Linked DNA regions of Homo sapiens: region 2 is linked to region 1. The links come from fine-mapping of genetic effects on gene expression. Tissue or cell type: whole blood. Region 1 holds a variant in brackets; the other region holds the start of a gene. All regions are shown on one strand. Distances are between the middles of the regions.

Region 1 (8,104 bases):
TCCGGAAAGCCAGCAGAGAAGTTAGTGCTTCTGTCAGGTGGACATGGGCAGCCCACTGAGAGGTCAAGGAAGATCAAGGCTGACAGGTCACCAGGGGTGGTGACACCACAAAGGTCATCAGTGGCCTTGGCAACAAGCTGATTTGGTGAGGTGGTGGAAGCCAGGCCAGACTGGAGTAGGGTGGGAGGGAGTAGGAGGTGAGATGATGGAATGAGTATAGATGACTTTTGAGGGGGTTGACAGGGAAAAGAAAGGTTAGGGGAAAGAGGATGGGGATGTGGTTTTGAAGAAGAGTGTTTTCTTTGCTTCCTTAACATTGGAGATGTTGAAAATACAGGAGAAAGAGCGAACTAGAGAGAGTGATCACTATTACAAGAAATCAGAGAAGGCTGGGGAGCTTGCAATCCAGGTCCCAGCAGATGACGGGACTGTTGTTGTTTTGGTTTTGTTTTGTTTTGTTTTTGTTTTTGTTTTGAGGCAGAGTCTCACTCTGTCGCCAGGCTGGAGTGCAGTGGCATGGTCTCAGCTAACTGCAACCTCCGCCACCCAGGTTCAACTGATTCTCCTGCTTCAGCCTCCTGAGTAGCTGGGATTACAGGTGCGCGCCACCATGCCCGGCTAATTTTTGTATTTTCTGTAGAGGCAGGGTTTCACCATCTTTGTCAGGCTGGTCTCGAACACCTGACCTCATGATCTACCCGCCTCGGCCTCCTAAAGTTCTGGGATTACAGGCGTGAGCCACTGCGCCCGGCCGGGACTGGTCTTAAAAGGGAGTAGGGACCCTTCTCCCTCAGAACAGGAGGAAAGCAGGGGCAGGTGGATGCCCAAATATATTGGTGGTTTCAGAGGCAGGAAGTTGAGGGGGTTCTTGGAAAGAGGGCTGGAGCCCTTCTCGAGCAGAGAGTTCTGGAAGGCCCCCTCCCAGACCCGCCAGGGAAAACCAAACCCAGCAGCCTTGGGATTTGAACTCAATTTCCTCCTTCCACCTGCCAGGGAGCTCAAGTCTCCCTTTCAGCCCTGGTAGAAGGCAACAGGTCTCCACCTCCTTGTCCTCCAGCCACTTCTTCCCAAGTGGCAGGGGAGATCCAGTCATGCAAGGCTATGGGGTCATTCTGGGGTTCGCTGGTATCTGAGGTGACCCCACCCTGTGTCTATCCTGCCTCCAGGCCCTCTCCGCATTGTGGTCCTAGTCGTCAGTGTGGGTGTCACATGGATCGTGGTCAGCATCCTCCTGGGTGGGCCTGGCAGTGGCTTTCCTCGCATCCAGCAACTCTTCACCAGTGAGTGTGGGACCCCGCCTTATCCTTCTCTGGAGGCCACCAAGGTGGCCACCTGGGCCTGTGGTTGAGGCTCTGGGTTGGGAGTTGACTTGGGTTTTCTATCTCCTCCCTGGCAGGCTACCTTTGGCTGTCCCCAGTCTGTCTCCTGGCATCAGGCGCAGCCTCCCCCAACACCCAGTTGCTTCATCTAGGAAAGCCAATACCTGATCACTAGAATTATATGCCCAACTGGAGTCAGTAGGGCCAGAGTAAGGGGTAGGGAGCTTCCACTGAACATGGGGAGTGATGCCCCGGTTGCTCCCTGCAGGCTCTGAGATGGAGAGGGGACTCTCCACCTTGTTGACTGGTAATAGGTCACCTGAGTACTTTTTTGTTTGTTTGTTTGAGACAGTGTCTCACTTTGTCTCCCAGGCTGGAGTGCAGTGGTGCAATCTCGGTTCACTGCAACCTCTACCTCCTGGGTTCAAGCGATTCTAGTGCCCCAGCCTCCCGAGTAGCTGAGACTACAGGTGCGCACCACCAAACCCGGCTTCTTCTTCTTCTTCTTCTTCTTCTTATTATTATTATTATTATTATTATTATTATTATTATTATTGTATTTTTAGTAGAGATGGGGTTTCACCATGTTGCCCAGGCTGGTCTCAAACTCCTGGGCTCAAGCAATCTACCCGCCTCAGCCTCCCAAAGTGCTACAGGCATGAGCCACTATGCCCGGCCAGGTCATCTAAGTAGTTTTTCTAATTCCATTTCCCCCTGTTCCTAGAGTAGGGAGTTTTTCATCTGAACATGACTTACACTTGAGCAGGAAGCATGCCAAGGTCGGCCTGGCTTAGCCCCCGGCCCCTGAGCCTGACTGCCTGTGTCTACACTTCGCGGTGTAAGGAGGGCCAGGCTGCCCTGCCGCAGGCCCCGGGAGGCTCCACACTAACAGAAACCACTCTGTATCCACAGGTCCAGAGAGCTCGGTGACTGCAGGTAAGGCCCCTGTCACCTCCCTGCTCCTCCCCTTTGTGACATCCCTGCCTGCCCCCGGTCCCGTAGGGCTTCGGTTTTCCATTTATTCCTCCCCAAACCAGCTGTGGTGGTCCACGGGGGCTGCTTGCCACTGTCAACCTACAAAACAAGTTACTTCCTGCCAAGTTACTTCCTGCCAGAATATGACGGTGGGGCAGGCCTAGGATAGATACTCCCACTGCAAAAGGGCAACTTGGAAGGAAAAAAGAGGTCACCCGTCCCAAGCAAGTCCAAAGCCCAGCAGGGCAAAATTCATTTGGTTTCAAGGCCTGAGGGGAATCCTCTGTGGCCTGAGATTCTTTCTTCTGGGCCTGCTGGAATGACCCATGCTCTGAAACGAGACAGCCCCACCTTCGGGGCCACCCTTCCTTCCCTTTATCTCATCTCTGCCCCCTTCACTCCAGGCCGGCAGTGTTTCTGCTGGTGTCAGATTCTCAAGAGCCTTGTTGGTCTCTTTTGCAAGTTATAGAGGCCCAAGCTATAAAATCAGAGAGTTTTCCCACAGACGCTTCCTAGATAACCCCATCTTCATTGTAGATTTCTGCTGAAAGGGTTGAGTGGACCCACGAGTCACATACCTCAGCTCTGGGGCAAACGCTTGAACAGCCTTGCTGTTCTGTCCAGGGGACACTTTTGCAGTTTTTGTAATATGATTAGGCCAAGAATTTTCCACATCTTCGCTTTCTGGCTCCTTTGTGCTCAACAGTTTCTTCCTTATGTCTCTCACATTTTACTATAAGCAGCAAGGAGAAGTCAGGCTACGCTCTCAACACTGCTTGGAAATCTCCTCAGCTGAATATCCAAGTTCAGCACCCAGCACTTACACATTCTCCTTTCGACAAAACACTAGAACACAATTCAACCAAGTTTTTTTTTTTTTTTGAGACGGAGTCTTGCTCTGTCACCCAGGCTGGAGTGCAGTGGAGCCATCTTGGCTCACTGCAACCTCCGCCTCCCGGGTTCAAGCGATTCTCCCACCTCAGCCTCCTGATTAGCTGGGATTACAGGCACCTGCCACCATACCCAACTAATTTTCATATTTAGTAGAGATGGGGTTTCACCGTGTTGGTCAGGCTGGTCTCG[A/C]ATTCCTGACCTCAAGTGATCCTCCCGCCTTGGCCCCGCAAAGTGCTGGGATTATAGGCGTGAGCCACCACACCTGGGCCAAGTTCCTTTATAACAAGGATCAGCTTTCCTCCAGCGCCCAATAACTCAATAACATGTCCCTCATTTTCCTCTGAGGCTTAACCAAAAGCACCTTTTTTTTTTTTTTTTTTTTTTGGTAGAGACAGAGGTCTTACTCTGTTGCTCAGGCTGGAGTTCAGTGGTATCATCCCCGTGCACTGTAAGCTCAAACTCCTGGGCTCAAGCGATCCTCTCACCTCAGTCTCCCAAGTAGCTGCGACTACAGGCATGTGCCACCACACCCAGCTAATGTTTTATTTTTTATTATTTATTTTTTGAATGTATTGAGACAGGGTCTTGCTCTCTCACCCAGGCTGGAGGGCAGTGGCGCAATCATAGCTCAAGTGATTCTCCTGCCTCAGCCTCCTGAGTAGCTGGGATTACAGGCATGTACCACCACACCCAGCTTATTTTGTATTTTTTGTAGAGACGGGGTCTCACTATGTTGCCCAGGCTGGTCTTGATCACCTGGCCTCAAGTGATGCTCCTGCCTTGGCCTCCCAAGGTGCTGGGATCACATGCGTGAATCACCACACCCAACCCAAAAGCACCTTTAACATTCATGTTTCTAGCAACGTTCTGTTCTTGATGATATTTGTATTCTCTAAGACCACAGAGGCTGTCTCTATTGCTCTCCCCTCCTCTCACCAGAATTACCTTTAACATCCATACTCCTACCAACAGTCTCTTAAAGGCAATCCAGACCTTTTCTAACATGTACCTCAAACTTCTATAGCCTTGATATGGTTTAAATGTCATCTCTAAAACTCATGTTGAAATTTGTCAATGTATTGGTATTGAGAGGAGGGCCTTTTTGAGGTAGTTACGTCATGAGGGCTCTGCCCTCATGAATGGATGAATGCCACTATTATGGGTGAGTTAGTTACCTTGAAGTTCAGCCCCCTTTTTTCCTGCGTCTCATATGCTTGCTTCCACCTTCCACCTTTCTGCCACGGGATGACCCTCACCAGATGCCGGCGCCATGCTTTTGGACTTCCCAGCCTCCAGAACCATGAGCCAAATGAATCTGTTGTCTTTATAAATTACCCAGTCTGTGGTATTCTGTTATGGCAGCAGCAAATGGACTAAGACAAGCCTCTACTGACTACCCAGTTCCAAAGCCATTTCCACATTTTTAGGTATTTGTTACCTAAGCACCACACTTCCTGGTGCCAAAACCTGTATCCATTTCCTGGAACTGCCATTTCAACTGGGTGGCTTAAACAACAGAAATGGATTCTCTCCCCATTCTGAAAGCCAGAAGTCTGAAATCAAAGTGTCAGCAGGGCGTTACTCACCCTGAAAGTTCTACAGGAGGGTCCTTCCTGACCTCCCCAGGTTCCAGTGGCCCCAGGCATACCTTGGCCTCTGGCTGTGTCACTCCTGTCTCTTCCTCCACTGTACCATGGCTGTCTTCCCTCTGTGTGTCTTTGTCACTTCTGTTCTTATAAGGACATCAGTCATGTTGCATTAAGGACCCAACCTACTCCAGTATGACCCCATCTGAACTGCAAAGGCCCTATTTGCAAACATCACATTCTGAAGTACCACAGATTAGAACTTCAGCATACCTTGAGGGGACAGAATTCAACCCATAATAGAAGCCATCCTGCTCCAGTCCTCCCAACCAACCCCCATCAAAATCGGGAGACAGGCTGCACCCCCTGCCACACTACCCCCTGCCACACTGCCTTTGCTCAGGTTGGCCTCATCCATGCAGCTAGACCCCCAGCCTGACTTACTTCACCCCTGCTTTGTTCCTGGCTGTGCAGTGGCCCAGGCCAGCCCTCAGCATCCTTTCTTTTCTCCCACCAGTAACAGAAAATCCTTCTGTCTTGGGTCCCTGTGGCCTCACCAGTAGGACACAGAGTATGGAAGTGTCCCCAGCCTCGGCCTGAGCCACATCCCCCTACTTGTGTCCTGCTCTGCGGTCACTTGTTCTACCATGTGTGCTGGTCCTGACCTCCCCTTCAGATCTCAGGTGACCTCAGGGCCAGGCCCATGGATAACACCTGCTATCCCTGCCCAGCGCCACGGGCCAGGAAGTACAAGTGTGGCCTGCCCCAGCCGTGTCCTGAGGAGCACCTGGCCTTCCGCGTGGTCAGCGGGGCCGCCAACGTCATTGGGCCCAAGATCTGCCTCGAGGACAAGATGTGAGCTCCCTGGGGTGACTGGGGATCAGGGAGGGAGTGGGGGATCCAGGGCCGGGTCTGCAAGGGAGAGTGGAGCAGACGTGCCCATGTGGGATCTCCCCGTCCCCCCCACCCCCCCCCAACTAGGCTGATGAGCAGCGTCAAGGACAACGTGGGCCGCGGGCTGAACATCGCCCTGGTGAACGGTGAGGCCCCTGGCTGAGCGTGGCCTGCCGCCCTCCTTCCCTGCTCCCTCCCCAGGAGGCCTCTGGGTGTTTGCCCTCCCTTCCCCTCCCATTCAAGATCTCCCAGGGAGGCCTGGGAAGGAGTCTGTGCAAGCGCAAGGCTCCACAGAGGAGTGACCCAATGAACAAAAAAGCATGATGGCAATAAAGAACTAGGGAAGGTTCTGGGAGGTTGAGGGTGCTTCATGGAGAGCCCCCGGAGGGCCTCAAATGCCAGACAGAGGCACCACGGCTTGGGGTGGGATGCAGCTGCCTGAACAAATGGATGAATATTGGGGGACTGTTTGAAAGCTTCCAGAAGGGCTGCCCCCCACCCCCGGTGCTACCCGCCTGCCGTGCCCTGAGGCTGGCCTGGCTTACCCAGCAGGGCCCCTCCCTCCTGACACAGGGGTCAGCGGCGAGCTCATCGAGGCCCGGGCCTTTGACATGTGGGCCGGAGGTGAGTTGCAGCGCAGCGTCTTGCATTTTGACTGCAGCAAAATGACCTGGGCAGCTTCCCCTGAGACACTGCTCTCTCTGTCTGTACTTGGAGCTTCTCAGTCACCTCCGTGGGTTCAGAAAGGACAGGGGCATCGCCAGCTTGGTCTGGAGGCTGTGGGAGGTCACGGGGATGCCTCAGCTTCCTACACCAGCCTGTCCCTTGGCGGGGCATGTCCCAGGCCCAATCCCTACTTCTGTTTCCTTGTTTGGAGAACGGGCTTGTGGGAGGGTGCTCAGTGGTGCCTGATGACCCCTGTTCCGTGGCACCTGCCCCCCCAGATGTCAACGACCTGTTGAAGTTTATTCGGCCACTGCACGAAGGCACCCTGGTGTTCGTGGCATCCTACGACGACCCAGCCACCAAGTAGGTGCTTGGGGAGGCCAGCCTCAGCCTTGCCCTTCTGCAGCAACAGCTGACACCCCTTCCTCCCATGCTGCAGGATGAATGAAGAGACCAGAAAGCTCTTCAGTGAGCTGGGCAGCAGGAACGCCAAGGAGCTGGCCTTCCGGGACAGCTGGGTGTTTGTCGGGGCCAAGGGTGTGCAGAACAAGAGCCCCTTTGAGCAGGTATGGGGGGTGCCTGGCATCACCCCCACCGGGGCAGCCTGTCGCCCCTTCTGCCTGCATGCGACGAGCCTCCCCAGCTGCTCACGCCCCAGCAGGGGACCGTCCCCAGTCCAGCTATGAGGGGTGGGCCAGTGCAGCTGATGCCATGTTTCCCTGGGATGGGTGGAGGGGCCAAGTGCCCTGAGAGTACACCGTTGGCCAACACAGCACAGTTGACTGACAGCCTGGGTCCTGGTCCACTCCTGTCCCCTGTCCCTGAGGGCCAAAGTCATGACTTTCTGCTCCCCTCCCCACAGCACGTGAAGAACAGTAAGCACAGCAACAAGTACGAAGGCTGGCCCGAGGCGCTGGAGATGGAAGGCTGTATCCCGCGGAGAAGCACGGCCAGCTAGCACGGCCAGTGCCAGGACCGGGCCGAGGGAGGCCAGACCAAGGGAGGCACGCGCGCTGCCGGGCGGACAGAGGCTGAGGCTCACACCCCACACCCGGGCAGGAGCGCTCCCTGGCCCCAACACATCGGGGCTCCGAGGCAGTGACCAGAACGTGGTCTCAAGGTGGTGGGGGCTATGGGGGCTGCAGGGGGTAGCCCTGCCGCACTTTGTCACGGGAGCCCAGGGTACCCGCCTCCTTTTCGTAACACTGTTCCCCCCGGTCAGCCCATCTAGCCCTGTCCTCCATTCCTCACGCCATCTCCATCCCCATCTTGAGTCCTGGAACGGCCCTGGGTGCCTGCCCCTCACTGTGCATCTCTGGGAGCAGCCCGGCAGGTTGGGGCGTCTTCCAGAACCTCTCCCTTCTGGAGCCACTCTGCACTGCGGGCTAAACATGTTTCCAGTGTGATTCCTTCCAGTGAGCCAAACCCGGTGGCTGCTTCATGAGCCTGACTGCCTCTCGCCTGCTCTCAGCAGGAAGGGACCCCTGGAGCAGGCTGGCCCGGGGTGGTGAAGTAGCTGGAGCCCGATCACAGTCCCGCGGTTTGTCAGGGGGCCCACCTTCTAGATGACCCCTTAATAAAGTGATGGCCCCACAGAAGAAATGCCTTCAGATGCTGTTGTCAGTGCGGAGTCAGAGGTGGCGGTGTCCTCTGGGGTGCGGGAGGACAGATTCCAGAGTCTTAACCAACCTGCTCCCACAGCCCGAGCAGACAGCCTTTTGTCTCCAGGGCTCCTGCCACCAACAGGCCCCGCTGCGACTGAGATGTGAC
Region 2 (8,104 bases), 240 kb before region 1:
TGTAGGTCTTCTGCAGATGTTCTTTAATAAATTGAGGAAATTCCCCCATTTTCTGAGAGTTTTCTGAGAGTTTTTGTCATGAGTTCTGTCAAATGCTCGTTCTGCATCAACTGATAAATCATGTGATTTTTCTTCTTTTGTCTGTTAATGTACTGTATTGCATTAATTGGTTTTCAAATATTGAACAAGCCTTGCATCTCTGAGATGCATGGTGTATAATTATTTTTATGTATTTGTGGATTCTATTTGCTAGTATTTTTCTAAGGATTTTTGTGTCTATATTCATGAGGCATATTGGCATGTAGCCTTCTTTTTTTAACTTTTTCTGGTTTTGGAAGTATCAGAGTAATACTGGCTTTATAGAATGAATTGAGAAGTGTTTGATTTGGACTTATGACAACAATTTTGTGCAATCTCTTATTTATTTAGAGATGAGGTCTTCCTATGTTGCTCAGGCTGGTCTCAAACTCCTGAGCTCAAGGGATCCTCCTGCCTCATCCTCCCACAGGGCTGGGATTACAGGTGTGAATCACCATACCTGACCAATTTTGGGCAATTTTAAATACAACAATAATGGATATGATGAAAGACTATCACTGATAATAATAAAGTCAAATTTCATATTCCACATGAAAATTAGATGATTTTAACTCATAGAGAAGTCGTTTATGGATGCCTATAGAGGAAAAAGAGTGTTCCCCTATCTGAACTTGTGCCATGGCACTCCAGGCCTTTAATTCACATACTTCTTAGATTTATTAAATCAAGAGGTGGGTGGGAGGTGGGAGATATAGGAAGGTGCAGTCCTTTTCCTCATTACTGACTCTCACACACATTTGAAGCTGTTTCCCCTGCCTGTCTATGATCCAGAGTTTTCTTTTCAAATTTTCTTTTCATAGCAAATAAGTTAGATGCATAGTCACTTTGACTCATCATGATGAAATTGAGATAGAAACTCTTCTGTAATAGTAGGCATTTATTTTCACAAGTTTGTAGTTATAAGATTTACAGAAGTTAATGAACTGTGAAACAAAGTGTATTTTAAACAAAAAATAAATGGGGAAGCCACAAAGGGAATGCAGGTGCCAAAAATCACTTGCTATTCAAATTCTCTCCTCTCCCCAGGCTAGAGTGCAGAGAAGCTAAGATGGGTTTCCATGAAAGGAACAATTTCGATTTCTCTGGCAGTGAGAACAGGGTACCCTAAAAGATACGGGAATAGTTACTCATATCACATCTTTATTTAACCCATCTGGCTAGTCTGGAGATTAGTAGTGGGTAATTGTAGAATTAATCAGGCTGTGATTCGAACTGAAGCTGCTATTCCAGATGATGCTGTTTTCCTACAGCAAATCAACATAGCCCCCTGGCACCTGGGATACAGCTATTCCTTTGCCAAATGTTATTTTTTCCCATTCAGCAGAGAACACTAGAAGCAGCTTACTTTCATCTAGCGGGAACAGAAGTACAACCTTAGGACTATATCTATTCTCTGGCTCACTGTCATAATCCACGTTGAATGGAGCTTGATTGTTGTGAATGTTGTGCTGGTTTATTACACTGATGACATATGTACTGGACCTGATGATCTAGAGGTAGCGAATACTCTAGATGCTTTATTAAGATACAAGTACACCACAGGGCAGGAGATAAGCCCCATGAAAACTCAAGAGCCTGAACCTCAGCAAAGTTTTTAGATGGTCTGGACCACGTTGGGTATTCAACATGTTGTTGTACCGCTTACCACCTACCACTCAGAAAGAGGCACGGCATTTGGTGTGGATGTTTGAATTTTGTAGGCAACATATGCTACATTTAATTGTGCCGCACCAATGCACTCAGCAAGTCATCTGTAGGGTTGCATGTTTTCGGGGAGAGATCCAGGGCAAGAAAAGGCTCTGTGACAGGTCCAGGCCACTTGACCCTTATGACCATGTAGATTCAACAGGTACAGGACCTTTGACACACTGGGAGGCTACACGGAGCCTCTGGCAAGTCCCAGTAGGAGAAACACACAGCAAAGCCCTAGAGTTTTGAAGTAAACCATGCCCTCTACCACAAAAGAAGTATTTTCCTTTTGACCAACAGCTTCCAGCTTGCTCCTGGGCTGTGGCAAAGTCTGAATGCTTGACCATGGGGCACCAAAGAACCATGGAACTTCAGCTGCCACTGATAAATTTGGTGCTATTTCATCCTCTTTTGGAAGTGGAATATTTGAGACCAGACTCAAGCAGGTCTGGAAGGTACAGGAAAGTTGCTAGAGCAGGTGGCTCACATCTTTGTGGCCCCTGCTGCTGCATGATCACCATTCCCTGGACTTACACCCAGAATGTCGTAGGGAGTTCCTCATGACCAGGTCTATCGGTCAAGGTTTCAAAAGGAAGCAAACAGTAGACTCAAGGGGTTGAAATGAGGAAAGTATAATTAAGGGATTTTTTTTTTAACAGAGGTGTAAGCAAGACTTAGAGAATTAGCAATGCATAGTGGGGCTCTCAGGGACTGGCAACAGTTGATATGGCCACAGCCACTGCTAAGTGCTCAAGCTGCCCACAGGCAGAGACAAACAATGAACCCTTAATAACAGCATTCCCTGGGGGGACCAGACAGCCACCTGGACTGCCATCTGGAAGGGGCAGCAATTTTTTCTCACTTGAACAGGTACTAATTTTGTACATGGATTCGCTTTTTTAAAATTCACATTTCTGCTGGCACTCCTGCCCATTGACTTACTGAACCCATTATTCACACTGACATTATCTCACACAAGAAAATCATTATAAGCCAGTGTGCGCATGCTGATGGACTCCACTGGTGTTACCATGTTAGCTCATCACCCTGAAGCATCTGGCCTGATAGGATGGGAGGTTGGTCATTCTGTTGAAGATGCTAGCAAACGTCACATAGATGATACCCACAAAAAGCAGAGGGTGGTGCTTAAGTGGATGGGCTCTTGACACAGCTCTGGCTGCCTATGGATGATTTTCTCGTGTGGCTCTCGACAAGTGACACTGTCATCCTGTTTTTCATTTTAGTAACCTGCAAAATTGAGATAATAATAAGAGCCCTTTGACAGGGTGTTGTGTGGATTCAATGAGATAACGCCTGGAAAGTGCTTAGCACAATCGCTGGCATGGTGTTAGCTTGGCAGTAAGGAAGGTCACAAGTGTTAGGTGCTCATGATTGTTATTTTTACTTAGCGTGGTCAGCACACTAGTTGGCACAATCGACTTTAGATCCATCTTTTAAAACCTTCGAGTCAAAGAGATTGCAAACAGCACTACCTTTTGAGTTTGGGTCATTTGGGTTCATTAAGACATTTAGACCGTTTAGCCGGCAAAGCTTATCACTGAATACAACGATCTTTGGGGGAGGGACATAGAAAACACACTACTGTGCAAGCAATCAAGTGGAATAGGGAAGTCCAAGAGGAGTCTTGCTTTTGTTTCTCCGTGAACTATGCACATGGCAGATGCAGGTGGTACTTGGGTTTCAGCTCCAGGGTCCCTGAGACCCAGGGACCAGCCCGTTTGGCGTGGCGGATTGGGGATGGGGCATGAGGGCAACAGGTTCCAGGCTGTGCTCCCATTAGGTCGCAGGGCTCCTTCCGAGCGCTTTCTCGTGACCCTGGGTGAGAGTGGCAGGCGCCCTGCTGCGTAGGCTCCCCCCCCCACACCCCCCCCCCGGGCACAGCCGCTGGCGGAGCTGCAGTTGCTCGAAGGGGCTTCCCAGGCTTCGCTGCTTGCTTTTCCCGCCGTCTTGGGTTGCGGGCGGCGTCGGTTCCCTCCCCGGGGGCCGCGGCGGCCGGAGGCGGGGGTCGCAGCGGCCGCTCGGGGCGGCGCTGGGCGGGCGGGCGCTGGGCCCGCCCCGCCGGCATCCTTGGCCCGACTTCCTTCTGCCGCGGGCGGCTGGCCCAGCTGGAGGAAGCGGCGGCGGCGGCCACGATGAGTGCGGGCGACGCAGTGTGCACCGGCTGGCTCGTTAAGTCGCCCCCCGAGAGGAAGCTACAGCGCTACGTGAGTAGGGGCGCCGCCACCCGCCCGGCCTTCGCGTCCCGGGGCACCCGCCCGCGGGGCGGCCGCGGGGAGCCGCTGGGCTCCGGGCGCGCCAGGCGCAGCCGCTCCCAGCGCCCGGGACTGCGGGCGAGGCCGACGGACGGAAACCGAAATCGCACGTCGAGCCAGCTTCGCCGCTGTGCTAGGCAGCGGGCCGGAGACCAGGTGGCGCCTGCCCGCGGGGCTCAGGGACTCCAGACCGCCGCTGACTCTAGCGGAGGGAGGCGGGTTGGGGCTGAAACCTCAGGCGCCACTCTCCGTACAGGAGCGGCCAGGGAGACATCTCGAAAGCGTGCCCCTTTCTTTGGCTGGGGGTGGCTCTGAGACCCATCGCCCCGCGAAGGAGACGCGGCAGGGGATAGGGAGACTGACAGCCAGAGGGGAATTGCCTGCATTCCCCCTGGACCGTAAGGAGTAAGGAGTGCTGCTCTTGTAGCTGTCATCGGACACTGCTGTCTGGAACCCTACACAGTGTAACTCGTTTCTCATCGTGTAACTCCTTTCAGCTTCTTCTTAATGCTGACACCGCGCTTTTATAGTGCCAGCTGGACAACTGACTTTTACTAATATGAAATTAGGAATACTTGGAAGAGCGAATCTTCCTACCTATTCCATTACCGTTTTAAGATGTACTATCGACACCTCAAACGTTCATTATCTCCATCAGCGTCCTCACGATAAGGTCTTAAAAACATTCTGCTTAAAGACCTGATTGCTACTCAGTGTTTTTCAGCCATTAGGAAGAACCACTTCAGTCCCCAGGGAGTTGCATATAAATAGCTATTAGGACTTCTTGCTTTTTTTAGGCTGGGAGTAGCTGGATGGATTCATCTTGTTCTTAATTCCTAATTTCTCTGCAACTTCACTGCACGGTGGTAGGAACAAACTCGCGCATGTCTGCGCTCATCCAAAGCAGCCCACCCCAAATGTGGTTCAGCCTTGTGCTCTTGTCTATACAGTGCTCTCAAACTGCTGTCCTCTTCTGGCCAAATTTCACAACTGTTTTTGTTCCCACATAGATGAGGCACATATTGTGTGGAAGTTCAAGAGGTGGGATTATAAAAAGACTTTAATAATGTATGAATACTTCCAGAATGTGTGGCAGGAGATTTTCCTGAACATAGAGTTGCTCAAGCCCTCTTTCCCCATTCACATCGGGCTAGACAGTGTGTGTTTCTCTCTTAGGGGTCTTTGAAAAGATTTTTGTTGTTTGTTCTGCAGAACAGAACTTTAGAGGAAGGTTGTTCTATTTAGCACGTGAATATCAGGAGTGCATAAATACTGAGATTTCTCTAAGTGCCAGTGTGTCCCTACATCATTTGCTTTTGAGTCCAGGAGTCCATAAGCACAGGGTCCAATATCTCTTGGCCTCTGCATTATCCAGCTGCTTCCTTAACTGTGAAGCTACTCAAAGGAGGCAAGAGAAGAAAACCTGCTCCCATCACCTGCATGAGCAGGTGAGGCTTTTGTCACACAGTAGTGCTTGCAGTGTTGACTCAGGATGGGTTTCCTTGTTGTCCTTTGGAATGACAGACATTTTAAAGGTTCACTATACAATTTCAGTAGATGATACAGAAAGATGCCCCTGGAGGGCAAAGATTATAGAATATTTTATTTCCCAGTCTTTTTTTGTATCTTAAGCAGACTGGCTTAGGGAAGTTTATTAGTATTTCATCAACTTTGGGAAGGCATGAGTGTGTGTGCCTATTATCACACGCGGTTCATTCCTTTAGGGGATGTGGCAAGAGTGGACACTGCGCAGCTTAGAGATATGTGGGGCGTGTGATGATGGGGCAGTGACTAGACTTAAGACACAAGAGTACCTAGGTGTCATCTTACCAACACTCCAAGACATAAACCTTGATGTTTGGGAACTGTCTCTAAGAAAGATCATATCTAGTCAATGCTTTTTTCGCTGACAGGCATCTGTCCCTGGAACACACCACAGAAAGAATTCTTTTTCCTCTCATAGCTAAATTCTGCAGGAATCTTTTTCACCACTAGATGGTGATCATGTGTCACTTCGACGGGGCCTGGATAGGGCTGTTACAGCTGCTTAAATTCAATTCCTGTCACTCCCTCCCGTTAACGGAGCGCTAACTCCGAACTAGGCCCTGTGTTACAGGCTGGGAAGACAGAAAAAAAAGACTTGATTCCAGTTTATAGTTTAACATTTATAATAGTAACATAGCAAAACTAGTTATTGGCACAACCAGGACAATAACTCAGTTATTCGTGCTGCCAGGCCAGCAAGCAGCACTCCATCAATGTTTGCTGTTACAAATGGAAGCTCAGGCAGTTTTTAGGTAAACCTTTCAGTCCAAAGTAGGCTTGTACTTCATCCACTTGAATCCATCAGTGAAGACAATCAGAAAGTTATTTTTTATCACTGGTCTTTTAAAAGATAGTTATTTTCATCTGTATTTTTTGTTTCACAAGAAATATATTCTTATGTTAATAAATAGAATGAAAAGTGAAGACCCCCTTTAAATTTCCCCTACCCCGCTACCTTCCCTTTGCTCTCCTCCTTATTCCACTCCCCAACCCAGGGATAACAACTGTGAGCCGTTCAGTGAGTACCATTCTACAAAATTTTTCAGAAAATATATAATTTTCTTTTTGCACAACTGGGATCATATTCTACTAACGGTCCTGCAATTTGCTTTGTTCACAAACATCCTGGACATCTTTCCAGGTTAGTACATATAGATTTACTTCATTCGTTAAAGCATTGTCAAATATTCCTTGTAATACATATAATATAACAATTTCTCTATTGGTGAACATTTGGCTTGCATCTATTTTTATCCATTTTAAAGAGTCCTATAATAACAGTGATAATAAAGCTATAATAGTTCACTTTTATTGAATGTTTATATGTGCCAGGCACTACACTAAGAACTTGTATTAACTCATTTAGTTTTCAAAACAATGCCAAGAGCCAGGCACTGTTTTTGTCCCTGGATATAGGTTCTCTGGATATAGGTTCTTTGTTGCATATTTAATTTGCAAATATTTTCTAGCAGCCCATAGTTTTTGTCTTTTCATCCTCTTTTGAAGAACTAAAATTTAAAAATTTTAATGAAATCCCCAATACAATTTTTCTTTTATGAATCATGGATTTAATGTTAAATCTAACAACTCTTCATCTAGCCTAAGATCCTTTGTCACCCAGCCTTGACCTCTTGGGCTCAAGTGATCCTCCCACCTCAGTCTCCTGAGTAGCTGGCACTATAGCTGCTCCCCACCATGCACTGCTAATTGTATTTTTTGTAGAGAGGACAGGATTTCTCCATGTTGCCCGCAGGCTGGTCTCCAACTCTTGGCCTCAAGTGATCCTTCCACCTTGGCCTTCTAAAGTGCTGGGATTACAGGCGTGAGCCAATGTACCTGGCCTCTGAAAGTTTTATAATTTTATATTTTATATTTAGATATTTTATATTTAGATCTATGATCCATTTTGAGTAAATTTTATAAAAGCTGTGAGGTTTGTATCATGGTTTCTTTTCTTGCATACCGATTTCATTTGTTCCAGTACTATTTATTGAGTAGACTGCCTTTATTCCATTGATTTACTTTTGAAACATCATCAAAAACCAATTTACCTGAAGGGCACAGTGGCTCACGCCTATAATCCCAGCACTTTGGGAGGCTGAGGCTGGAGGATCTCCTGAGGTCAGGAGTTCAAGACCAGCCTGGCCAACATGGTGAAACTCTGTCTCTACTAAAAACACAAAAAAAATTAGCCAGGCATGGTGGTGGGCACCTGTAATCCCAGCTACTTGGGAGGCTGAGACAGGAGAATTGCTTGAACCCCAGAGGTGGAGGTTGCAGTGAGCTGAGATCACACCATTGCACTCCAGCCTGGGCGACAAGAGCAAAACTATCTAAAAAAAAATCCATTTACCATATCCATGTAGATCTATTTCTGGATTCTCTAGTCTGTTCCATTGATCTATTTGTTTTATGCCAACAACATGCTGTTTAATGACTAATGACTGTAGCTTTACAATAATTCTTGAAATCAGGTTATTTTAGCCCTCAAACTTTTT

Evidence for each region. PIP is the estimated chance that this variant, and not a neighbour inherited with it, causes the effect.
Region 2: it holds the start of GAB3, and the variant in region 1 is fine-mapped to the expression of GAB3 in whole blood (TOPMed, PIP above 0.99).

What each region holds. Positions count from the first base shown.
Region 1 is chrX:154,505,999-154,514,102 of GRCh38, reverse strand. It overlaps FAM3A (FAM3 metabolism regulating signaling molecule A), which reads left to right. Exons shown (of 9, transcript NM_021806.4): 2 at 1,167-1,280; 3 at 2,232-2,255; 4 at 5,506-5,629; 5 at 5,756-5,814; 6 at 6,242-6,292; 7 at 6,613-6,697; 8 at 6,774-6,900; 9 at 7,197-7,932. The coding sequence ends at 7,292. Among named protein-coding and RNA genes, the nearest start is that of FAM3A, 6.2 kb to the left of the region's middle. The variant A/C (reference allele first, on the strand shown) is at 3,378.
Region 2 is chrX:154,746,863-154,754,966 of GRCh38, reverse strand. It overlaps GAB3 (GRB2 associated binding protein 3), which reads left to right and starts at 3,890. Exons shown (of 10, transcript NM_001081573.3): 1 at 3,890-4,013. The coding sequence starts at 3,942. RefSeq lists silencers at 3,935-4,014, 4,185-4,244.